Linked DNA regions of Homo sapiens: region 2 is linked to region 1. The links come from fine-mapping of genetic effects on gene expression. Tissue or cell type: whole blood. Region 1 holds a variant in brackets; the other region holds the start of a gene. All regions are shown on one strand. Distances are from middle to middle.

Region 1 (5,688 bases):
AGTTAACCTACTTGCTCAAGGTCACGCGGGTTATAAATAATGAAGCTGGACTTGAAACCCAGGTTCTTGAACTCTGGGCACTCTCCCCCAGGACGCTCCCTGACTCTGTGGTCTGCGAGTCCCGGACACTAGCACTTCCTGCTGTTCCTCATGTTCAGAGCCCCTGCCCTCCTTCTCAGTCTCTGCTTAGGCAAAGTAGCTTCTGCATATTCTTCTAGTACCTCATGTGGGTTAATAGTAGTAGACCAAAGACATATGAAATTATATTAATATTTGAAGCAAATTGTAAAGCAACTCCAGCTGTGATTTTTCCATAGTTTACTTTTTCAGCTCATCTTAGATTGGAATCAGATTCTTTTTGGAAGTTGATAGAGCATATATTTTTAGTACCATAAGTAAATATACAGCAATGAGAATCCTTTGGTTGTTTGTTTGTTGTTGTTGAACTACACACACACACACACACACACACACACACACACACACACACACATATATTTTTTGAGACAGGGTCTCACTCCGTCACCCGGGCTGGAGTGCAGTGGCACAATCAGGGCTCACTGCAGTCTTAACTTTATGGGCTCAAGTGATCCTTCTACCTCAGCACCCCAAGTATCTGGGACTACAGATGTGTGCCCCACACCTGGCTAATTTTTAAAAATATTTTAATAAAGACAAGATCTCACTATGTTGTTGCCCAGGCTGGTCTCAAACTCCTGGGCTCAAGCCATCCACCCACCTTGGCCTTCCAAAGTGTTGGGATTACAGGCATGAGCCTGAACTCGAGTTGAATAGAATATGGGGAGCTTGGACTGGGGGTGTCACTGTGTGAAGGTCGCCTCCAGGAGCTGATGGGGAGAGGTTGTACTTACCGTGTTGTTCTGTTTCAGGTATTTTGCACTTGGACTGCTCTATCATTATAATAACCAAGATGCTGCTGCAGTTCAGGTGAGTCTAGAAGGGTTTCCACATGATTTAAAAATCAGCACCATGTAAGTAATACTTAGTGTTACTTAAAAAAAATTCACAAGTTGATAGAGACCACTTTTGCCTGATCTACACCCTTTTATACAGAATAAAAATGATTCTGTTTTAGAAAGTGAATTCCTGGAGAAATGTTGGCCAAGAGTTTTCTTCTCATTGTCTTTCCATCTCCTTAAAGAACATTATCAAGACTGAGTTTTTGAAAACTTAAGAAATGAAAATATGATCTCACAGAGTTCCAAGTCATAATATATCACTACCCTTATCAGAAAATTTAGGCAGTGAATGATAGTCGGATTTACCATTTCCACTGTTAGTGATGATCACTGTTGCCAATGAGCTGGGTACATTATTATCCTTGTGTCACCTGTGACAAAACCAAAGCTGATGCATGCCAGTTGCTTGCCCGAGGCCATGTGTCCGTGGTAGATCTGGGATCTGAACCGCGCTCCATTGGCCTGGCAGGGGTCCTGCACCCTAATCAAAATGGCATCGATTTATTAGCATTGTCACATTTTGTATCTTACATCTTGCTACTGATCTTGAGAAAAGCCTCATCTCACACTCTCAGGGGGAGACTTTCTCCCCTTCGTTATTAGTTATGCATTTGTACTGCACCGTGTTGTTTCCTGATGTGCCTTTTTGCTTTATTTTGTGAGGGGCCAAGAGCATCAGCCATGTTCCCCAAGCTAAAGTTAACCTCATGACTCTGGCAAGGCTGAACATGTATTTAGTGTTTGATTGCTTTGTGAGACTATTGTGGTAACCTGATTGCAGAGCAGAACAACAACAACAACAAAAAATGGAGTTGGGTGAATTAACACGTACCCAATGGCCAAGAGTAGATTTGGGTGTCAGTGATAAAATTTTCATTTTCAAAAACCTGGTGTTCTCAGTTACAGCTTTATATAAGTATAGTAATAACTTTAGCAGAGCTGTAGAGAGATAGATTTGCAAACTTGAAGTGATATGGGATAAATCTCCATACGTGGTAGAATTTTATATAAAATGGCATATTTCAAGGTATGTGTGATTATTTGGTTTCAGCAATTCTGTGTTGAAGAAACTAGTATCATAAAAAATGTTCGTATGCTGACATCAGAATTCCAGAATTCATATGCCACCCCTGTTTCTGGGCTCCTTCCTGGTGCTGTGGCTTGGAGGGGTGGTGCTGTGTATGGGTGGGTGAGGCACGCCATGCAGGTATTGCAGAAGGAACCCACGCAACCGTCATCCTTTCTACCCCCAAGTGATGCTGCCTCATTCTGGGGTCCTGAAAGTAGGCTTCACTTAACATGGTAGGGAAGTTTCTGGCTGAAAAAGCAAAAGGCTTTTATCACTGGAGTCTATCCTGAGCCCCCTGTGCAAAAGGCAGTGTGAACTCAGGGGACAGAATCACTGAAGCTTTTGTAAAAGCACAACATCTGCCTATCACAGTCCAAAGGGGACTTCAAAATCAAGAATGTCTGTGACGGAGAAGATGGAAACAGAGCCTGGCTGATGGTTGTAGGTGAATCTTCTCTGTGTCGAGATGTTATCAGTGACCGTTTTCTTTATTTCATGAAGAAACATTTTTAATATATTCACCTCCCTGCATATATTCTGTTTACTGTGTTATTGTTAAAAAAAGAAAGAAAGATAAAAGAACCTAGAGCTTAATTTTTTTTTTTATTTCTTGGACTATGTCTTTTTACATTTCTTTATTTCTCCAAAAAAACTAAAATTTAAGCATTTACAGTTTTTCCAACTACTTTAAAAGGTATTAAAAAGCCAAATAAGTAAACATATGCCATTTCTCAACTAATTCTGAGATATGTGCCTTTATGATTGTTTTTTCTTTTCTTTTTCTTTTTTTCTTTTTGATTCCTTTCCAGTTGTGGGTGAACATTGTGAATGGCGATGTCCAGGACTCCACACGCTCAGACCTGTATGAATACATCGTGGATTTTCTTACCTACTGCTTAGACGAGGAACTAGTGTGGGCCTATGCTGATTGGGTCCTGCAGAAAAGTGAAGAGGTTTGTGCTTCGTAAAAATGCATTCTCTTTGGTTGGGGGAGGTGGTAAAAACAGACCCCAAAAGCTTTGCTTTTAGGAGGGGAAAAGAAAGCTACATTTCAACCTCCTCCTCTGTTTTTTGTTGTTGTTATTATTCCCCTTTTAATACCTTCCCTTGAGCTCTCTGGATTCTAGCTCTAGGGCAGTTCTGCATCTTGCTGCTGAGACATTCCATTGAGAATCCCCTTGCTGGGGCAAGTCACTTGTATAGAAAAGCAAGACATAGCCAGCTTGCATTTTTAGCATCTTCTTAAGAACTTGTGTCTGTGAACCCCGCTCCTCGACCCCTCAGAAGTCTGACACTGCTGTTTTCTGGAGCAGGATTAGGTGGTT[G/T]CCCTGAAGGACTTGATCTTTGGGAGGAGGAAGCACCCAGACCTGGGCCACACTGGGCCCTCATCCCTGCTCCCACCACTGCCAACATGGAGCTTGTGGGCCTGGAGGAGGGAGGGGAGCCATGAGCAAGACTCGGCCTGTCCTGGAGGCTGAGAAATGCTGGCAGTGAAAAAGCACCTGTTGGCTAGAGGGAAGGTAGCAGGCTCAGGACAGTATCCTTAGTAAAGCCCCACAGGTGACCACAGGTGACTGGGAAGAAGACAGCAAGCATTTCAGTTCTCATCGTGAAAAACGTATACGCTTCCATGGCTCCCCTTGGAGAGACAAAATGAGCTTTCTGATGCAGGACGTTGGTCCTGAATGGAGAGTTTCTGAGTGCTGCATCTGCCTTTCTAAGACCTGAGTTGGAATATATTCTCATATCCTCCGTGGTGCTGGCTTCCCTGGAAAATCAGAGCCAGGCACTTGCACTTTGCATACTTGTTTCTCCATCTTTACTTTGCCTCTGTGCACACGCCTGCAGAGCACATCCTGACCTGCTCACACACACCTACAACATGGATCTCAGTGCCGTTGCAAGGTTTAGGCTTCTCCCAATGCTTATGGATGATAACAGCAGATACTGCACGGTGGACAATCCCCTGACAAAGGTCATCGCTTAAACATCATAGCAGCCCCTCAGTGGGCATTAGCTACAGATGAGGAAACTGAGGCTATAGTTGGTAGAGCTGGGACACAAATCCAGGCTTATAGAATCCAAAATTCATACCATAATACATGATACGTGAATGTATTGGCCTTGGAGGGGGGAGGTGCGTGTGTGCGTGCACATGATAGAACCTCCCACATGTAAGTGCTCAGGGGAGGTGCAGTGGAGAGCTGCTTTCCTGCCTGCCTCACTGTCCTTTCCTTGAACCAGAGGATTGGACCAGTGCCTCCACTTGATGGACACAGGAAGGCAGCCCGGAAACTTACTCAGGGACTGGAAGCTCAGATCTCAGATTAACCATCTATCATAAATAACCCAGAGTAGATAATCCATGTTCAGAGAAGTGAGTTTACTGTACAGAAATTTCAGCACTTTTGATATCTTTTCACATACTGTTCTGCAACTGGCTATCCCTGTTCTTGGATGATCTTAATGTTATTATTATAGGTTGTCAAAATCTGTCACCAGTAAATGCTTTGTTCTTCAGTTTCCAATTTGCATGGGGTGTGTGAGGAGGACTTCAGGGTATAGGCTGGCTTTTCTATCTTGATTTTTTGCCCTCTGGCCTTTGACAGTGCTTCATGCTGGGCTGTTTTTCTCCATAATTATATTTTTTAAGCCACTGTATTGAGATATGATTGACATACAAAAAGCTGTGCATACATAATAATTTAATCATATTTTAAGTGATGATTTTATCCAAAGCTTGAATGTGCAATGACCAAAATAAAGTTAAAGGAAAGGTGGGTTTGGGAAGCACAGTCACTGTATTGTCGCTCCTCTTTCAGGTCGGAGTTCAGGTTTTCACCAAGAGACCTTTGGATGAACAGCAGAAGAACAGTTTTAATCCAGACGACATTATCAATTGCCTTAAAAAATACCCTAAAGCCCTTGTGAAGTATCTGGAACATCTTGTGATAGACAAGAGACTGCAGGTGAGCACTGCAGAAGTTAGACTAAAGAGTGTGGGCTGGAGAGACGGAATTGAACTAGAACACTTTTTGGCATGTGATTCTGTGTAATGTCTGTTCCCTGGGTGATCCATCCGTACTTGTTGATGGTCTGATGGCGGCCTTGAGGCTTGCGGAAAGAGACCTGGAGCAATAGGTAGCTTTATTTTTTTCTCCGTCCGTCTCACACCCACTCAGCTTTTATTTTTCCTCTCTTTTCCTTCTTTGTTATTATCCTTAAAGGAAATAAAGGGAGCTATACCTTTTTGTAGGTTATCTAAATTCTGTGGCCCTTACTTCTTGAAATAAGAGGTGACATTTTGTTCTATTCCCCATAGATGGTAAACTCATCTCAGTATCATGGTTTCTGAGAGGGTTTCGATCCAGCAAGTGAGCATCTGCCCAGCTCATGTCAGTGCAGCCGCGGTCTCCAAGCCCTGGCTGACAGGGGAGAGCTTTGACTTTCCCACTTGAAAACACTGTCTGTCTGCTTGGCTCCCCCTGTTTCCTGCAGAAAGAAGAGTATCACACCCACTTAGCTGTGCTGTACCTGGAAGAGGTGCTGCTGCAGAGGGCCTCCGCCAGTGGCAAGGGTGCAGAGGCCACCGAGACGCAGGCCAAGCTGCGGCGGCTGCTCCAGAAATCTGATTTATAC
Region 2 (5,344 bases), 54 kb before region 1:
GCCGAGGTGGGTGGATCACTTGAGGTCAGGAGTTCAAGACCAACCTGTTCAATATGGTAAAACCCTGTCTCTACTAAAAATACAAAAATTAGCCCTGCGTGGTGGTGCATGCCTGTAGTCGCAGATACTTAGGAGGCTGAGGCAGGAGAATTGCTTGAACCTGGGAGGTAGAGGTTGCAGTGAGCTGAGAAGATTGTACCACTGCACTCCAGCCTGGGCAAAAGAGACTGTCTAAAAAAAAAAAAAAAAAGTAATCTAGTTAATATTTCAATATTGAGCATCAAGAATTTTTAAAAATTGGTTGAGTGTTTTCTACATGCAGAAAGATACAGCAGAGAGCATAGACACAATCCTTGCCCTCCCAAGCGTATACCCAGCGAGAAAGTGAGAAGCACAGAGTATGTGTAAGCATAAAAATACTAAGTTTTGAGAGTAGACAGCAACTATGAAAATATTCAGTTATATCGATGCAACTCAGTCTTCATTAATTGTTCTCATCGGAGCACATCTTTTTCACATTCTGTAAAGTAACGCTCGGTATGGGCCCAAGGAATATTTAATAAATATTTAAAAATGAAGTTAATAATTGTTTTGAAAGCCATATGGTTGATATTTCTTCTTAAATGTAACCAATAGAAACAACATAAGGAATTTGGCCTGTGCATATATTTGCACATTTATGGTACAGGCATTTACATGGAGGTGCCTGTCATTTGTGACACAGACTTCTCATCAAGTTTCAGAAGGAACAGATGTTTCTAGATGGAATAATATGGAGCTTGCCATTGTAAGAATCCTGTAATAAATCCTTTCATAAAATAAATATATCTGAATTATCTCTTGTTATACATTTTCACTCCTGGATCATCTAAAGTAGAACACAAAGATTGTTCATAAACTATTCATTCAAAACAACTTTATATAAAAAGAATTACTGTTGCTGAATTCTGGATTCTTATTGTTGCTCTTTCTTACTAGCATGGGGTTTGGGACAAGTCACCTTTTTAAATTTTTTTATTTATATTTTCCTAAGTGAATTAACACAGGAAGTCATTCACCTTTCTTTGCCTCAAAGAATTAAATTTATTCTTTGACGCTATTAAGTAAATTAATAGCGTCTACTTCATTGCTCAGTCACTAGCAGTTTCTGAAGTCACTGTCTGGCAGTCAGTAGATATCACCTCTGTAACTAGTCTTGTGCAGCTCTCTGTGATGTGATCTGGTAGAGGACTAAGATACAAAAGCACAAGGGTGAATTCTAGGACCACCTGAGCCAGTGATTAGTTGATGACAAGTCACATAGTCTCTGTGAGCCTGGGTAAAATGAAGAGACTGGATTTGCTCTTGTACCTTCCCAATCCCTGGCTCCACTAGCTGTTGGCCACCTTAGACTTGAAGGTCCATTCACTGCTGCTTGCCCTTGAAGCTCAATTGCTGGTCAGAGCTTTACACTCCTGGGAAGCCAGTCCCCTACCTGGAGGCTGAGCCGGTGACACTGGTTCCACTGGGTCACAGCTGAAGCACCACTGGGGATGGGGCATTTATGTGGCCATGAGTCACACTAGGGTAGGGGTAGAGGGCAAGTCACAGGAAGATTGTTGGGTTTTTTTTTTTTTTTTTTTTTTTTGGCCAGTTTCTTTTCTTTCTTTTTTTATCCCTTTGAAACAGAAGACCATGGCGTACAATCTGGTATCTGCCTTCAGGGTTGGGATAATATCTTTGTTTTACAATACTCAGAGTGGCTGGAAGAAAGCTGAGGCCACAGGTCACTAGCAGGTTCTAAAGTCTGAAAATCCCTGGGAAAATTTGACTTTTTATATGCTAATAATTGAGTACTGACAACTCTGGAGGGAGCTTTCCAATTCTTCCGTCATGAAAGTGGACTTTGTATACTAAAGAGGGGTTCATGGATTCATGGTAACCTACAATTCTTCCTTGCGGCCTGAACCAAAGGAATAGCAGCTACAGTTGGGTTTTCCTAAAAGGAGTAAGATAGTCCCAGGCCTCCCTTCTCAAATAAGTGTATCAAGCAGGTGGACTCTGCCAGTCGGGGGTCCCGGTCAATCCCTAGGGCCCTGGGGCGCCATGGGCCTCGTGGGAGGGCTGCGCATCCCAACCATGCCTTCGTCTCCTGGTGGGGCACCGGCGGTACGTCCGATCCTCCAGCCCGCGTGGTCAGGCGGCCGCGGGCCCAAGCATTTCCCAGGGCCCAAGCATTTCATTCATTTATTCATTCACGCAGCAGGTATTTCCCGGGCGCCCTCCTCCTGTGTAGGTGACAGAAACTGGGTGGCGAGCGAGCCAGGCAAAGCCCGGCTTCCCTGAAGCTCCCCGCAGCGGCGGGGGCGGAGAAGAGACCTCAGCCCCGCGGGCTCGCACAGCTGGCGCGGACCACGCTCTCGCCCGGGGCCGGCGGCCTCAGCGCCCCCCGAATGAACACCTTCCGCCCGCTGGCCGCCCCGCGAGGCGGGCCGTGTCGTGGCCCCGGTGCACGGAGGGGGACGCCGAGGCCCGGAGCAGGGCCCGTCTCGGCCTGTGCTCGGAGCCAGGCGGCAGGGCCCGCGGGCCGGCGGGCGGCGCGGAGACGGCTGCGCTCCCGCCCTCCGCCAGCGCCTGGCGGCCGCCCCACGTGACGGGAAGCGGCGGCTGCGGGGTCGGGCCAGCCCAGGAGCCGCGGGCCGGAGCGGGGCGGCGGGGCCCCAGGCCGCGGGGCGGCGCGGGACGGCGGGCGCCGGCGCCGGTGAGTGAGGAGGGCGGCGGGGCGCGGGGTGCGGGGCTCAGGGCGCGGGGCGCGTGGGGCAGGAGGGCGGGGAGCAGGAGTGGGGGGTAGGCGGCGGGGCGGGGTGGAGGGCGAGCCCGTGCGTGTGCGCTGGGGCAGGTGTAGTGGGGGCTGGAACGCGGGGTGGGGGGAGCAAGTGGCTATACACTTGGGGGCAGGTGTGCGGGTGTGCGACTTGGTAGCTGTCCCTTGTGGGGGCCGGCTAGCCTGCTGGGGTGAGCAAATAAGTGTTCACGTGTGTGTGGGATGAAGTGTGCACGGGTGTGGGGTCAAGTGTGTATGTTGTGTGTGAGGAGTGCGTGTGTGTTTAGGGCAAGGGAAGACCTGAGAGACCTCGTCCTTGATTTGGGTTTTCCGGGGAGAAGGGCCAGGAAGGACTTGCACCTCCATCCCTGGTATGGAATGGTTTTGGCGCTGTGATTGAGGTTTCTGGGAGCTCTTTGGATTTGAGAGCTCAAATTCGGGTCACACTCAGGCCTGAATTGTCCTGATCTGGAGAGTAGGCAGGGGTGTGTTGGGGAGTAGGGAAAAGTGCTGTGCTGGGCTTCCTGGCCCCTGTTTTTAGCACCAGGTCAAGGGCTGGAAGCTGTCATCCCTGTGGAATTGTTTTCTTTCCATTGCCTTCTGGAGGTGCAGGTGCAAGTTAGTCCGCCTGCCTCCCTGTGTTAAGTGTTGATATCCTTAAACACGGAAGCTGTCCGGTTGTCTGCACCTGCCGTGGCTTCTACCCAAGGACTGTTGAGTGACCCTCAGGAAGCCTCCTACCTGGCTGCTAAAAATGGGGGCTCACAGATCACACAGCAGGCCTTACTGCACGTGGACTGCACGCGCAGCTGTGGTCAAAACATGTCTGAGCAGAGTTTAATCACTGATGAAGTGCTCATGGGCAAGCACCTTGTCTATCAGGAAGGAAGGCAGCTGCGGGTGTGATTGTGGTGGCAAGTTAAGGCACTGAGAAGGTGTGCAGGGAAGATCCTACTGCGTTGTGTGTGTTGGCTTGGTTGGAGTCAGGATGAACGAATGTAGAGGGACTGTGTGGTGGCTGCTACTCTCTCATGGTGGACATGCTTCTCTCTGTTGGTCAGCCGGAAGCTGGCAGACAACTGAGAGCTCGCAGTTCCATGGTCAGTCAGAAGGAACATTTGGTCAGCTGCTTCCTTTTCTTTTTCCTTCCATTTCTGCCAGCCGAGCAGCCTCAACAGTCATTGCAGCTGCTTCTGTGATGTGTAGCAAAACGCTGCCTGGAGTACTAGAAAGTCTACTGGCTGGAATCTGCTGGAACCTGTCCATAACTAGCCTGCCCCAGGTCATCTATGAAATGGGAGTGATGCTCTGTGGTGGTAATGAATGTGGAGTGTGGGTTCAAATCCTGCCTCTGCCATTTCCTGTGACCTTTGGGCAATTTGCTGGACATTCTGAGTCTCAAATTCCTCCATCAAAATAGGGATAATATTAGAAAAGGCACATGAATTCTAATAAGAAATTGTGCCTGGAAAGGATCCGGCACAGGGTCTGGCATTTAGTAGGTGCTCAATAAATTATTGCTGACAAATATAAATGAGGATGTAGAGCCAGGTCTCCCTCAGCTCTGAAAATATGTAGTTTTATGTTTTGAGTAATTGTTAACCTAACAAATGATTTACTCTGGAGTTAGACTTGTGGGTTCTGAATTCCAATTTGCTATGTGCATCAAGGTTTGCATTACACAATTGAATTGGGTGAGAGGTGAGGTGCCACTGTTAGCCTTCATTCACTCTGCCTTTTCTTCTACACTCATGATTGTGCATGGCAGTCCTCTTGTCATAGCATTGGAGGCAGAGCGTTTTCACCACTGCAGGAATCCCAGGACCAATCTAACCTCAGCTTAAACCCTCCAGAGACAGGGATTTGTAAAGGGCCCATTCTTCATTTAGGCAGCTCCAGTTGAGGAGTTTTAAAAGCATAGAGCTCACTATTTTAAAAATGCTATATTTTCTTTTTGTTGTTGTCTTCTGGGTGGTTTTTTTGCTGTTGTTTTTGAGACAGGGTCTTGCTCTGTCACCCAGGCTGGAGTGCAGTGGTGTGACCATGGCTCACTGCAGTCTTGATCTCCCAGACTCAAGGGATCCTCCCACCTCAGCCTCTCAAGTAGCTGGGACCACAGGCTCGCACTACCACACCCAGATAATTTAAAAAATTTTTTTTGTAGAGATAGGGGTCTCCCTGTGTTGCCCAGGCTGTTCTCAAACTCCTGGCCTCAAGCAATCCTCCTGTCTTGGCCTCCCAAAGTGCTGGGATTACAGACCTGAGCCGCTGCGCCCAGCCAAAAAACTTGCTGTATTTTCTGGGTCTGATATGCAGCTAACATTTCTGTTAGGAAAAAAAAAATGAAGTTATTTGGCTTATTCCTTCATGCTAATATTACAAATTTGTGATCTTTTAAGAAAACTTGAAGAAATTTTACTTAATGGGTTAAGTGTCTTCATCTTGGTCTGAATCCAGCCCTCATTAGAAATACATTAAAGTAGTCATTTGTGGCAGCCAGGTGTTTGGATACTGCCGAATAATTTGGCTCAGACTTTACAA

What was found. PIP is the estimated chance that this variant, and not a neighbour inherited with it, causes the effect.
Region 2: it holds the start of TGFBRAP1, and the variant in region 1 is fine-mapped to the expression of TGFBRAP1 in whole blood (INTERVAL, PIP above 0.99).

What each region holds. Positions count from the first base shown.
Region 1 is chr2:105,272,874-105,278,561 of GRCh38, reverse strand. TGFBRAP1 (transforming growth factor beta receptor associated protein 1) reads left to right here. Exons shown (of 12, transcript NM_004257.6): 7 at 891-948; 8 at 2,859-3,002; 9 at 4,872-5,018; 10 at 5,548-5,688. Among named protein-coding and RNA genes, the nearest start is that of GPR45, 34 kb to the right of the region's middle. The variant G/T (reference allele first, on the strand shown) is at 3,375.
Region 2 is chr2:105,327,021-105,332,364 of GRCh38, reverse strand. It overlaps TGFBRAP1 (transforming growth factor beta receptor associated protein 1), which reads left to right and starts at 2,630. Exons shown (of 12, transcript NM_004257.6): 1 at 2,630-2,740. It overlaps C2orf49-DT (C2orf49 divergent transcript), which reads left to right. Exons shown (of 2, transcript NR_187479.1): 2 at 1-836. RefSeq lists a silencer at 2,316-2,745.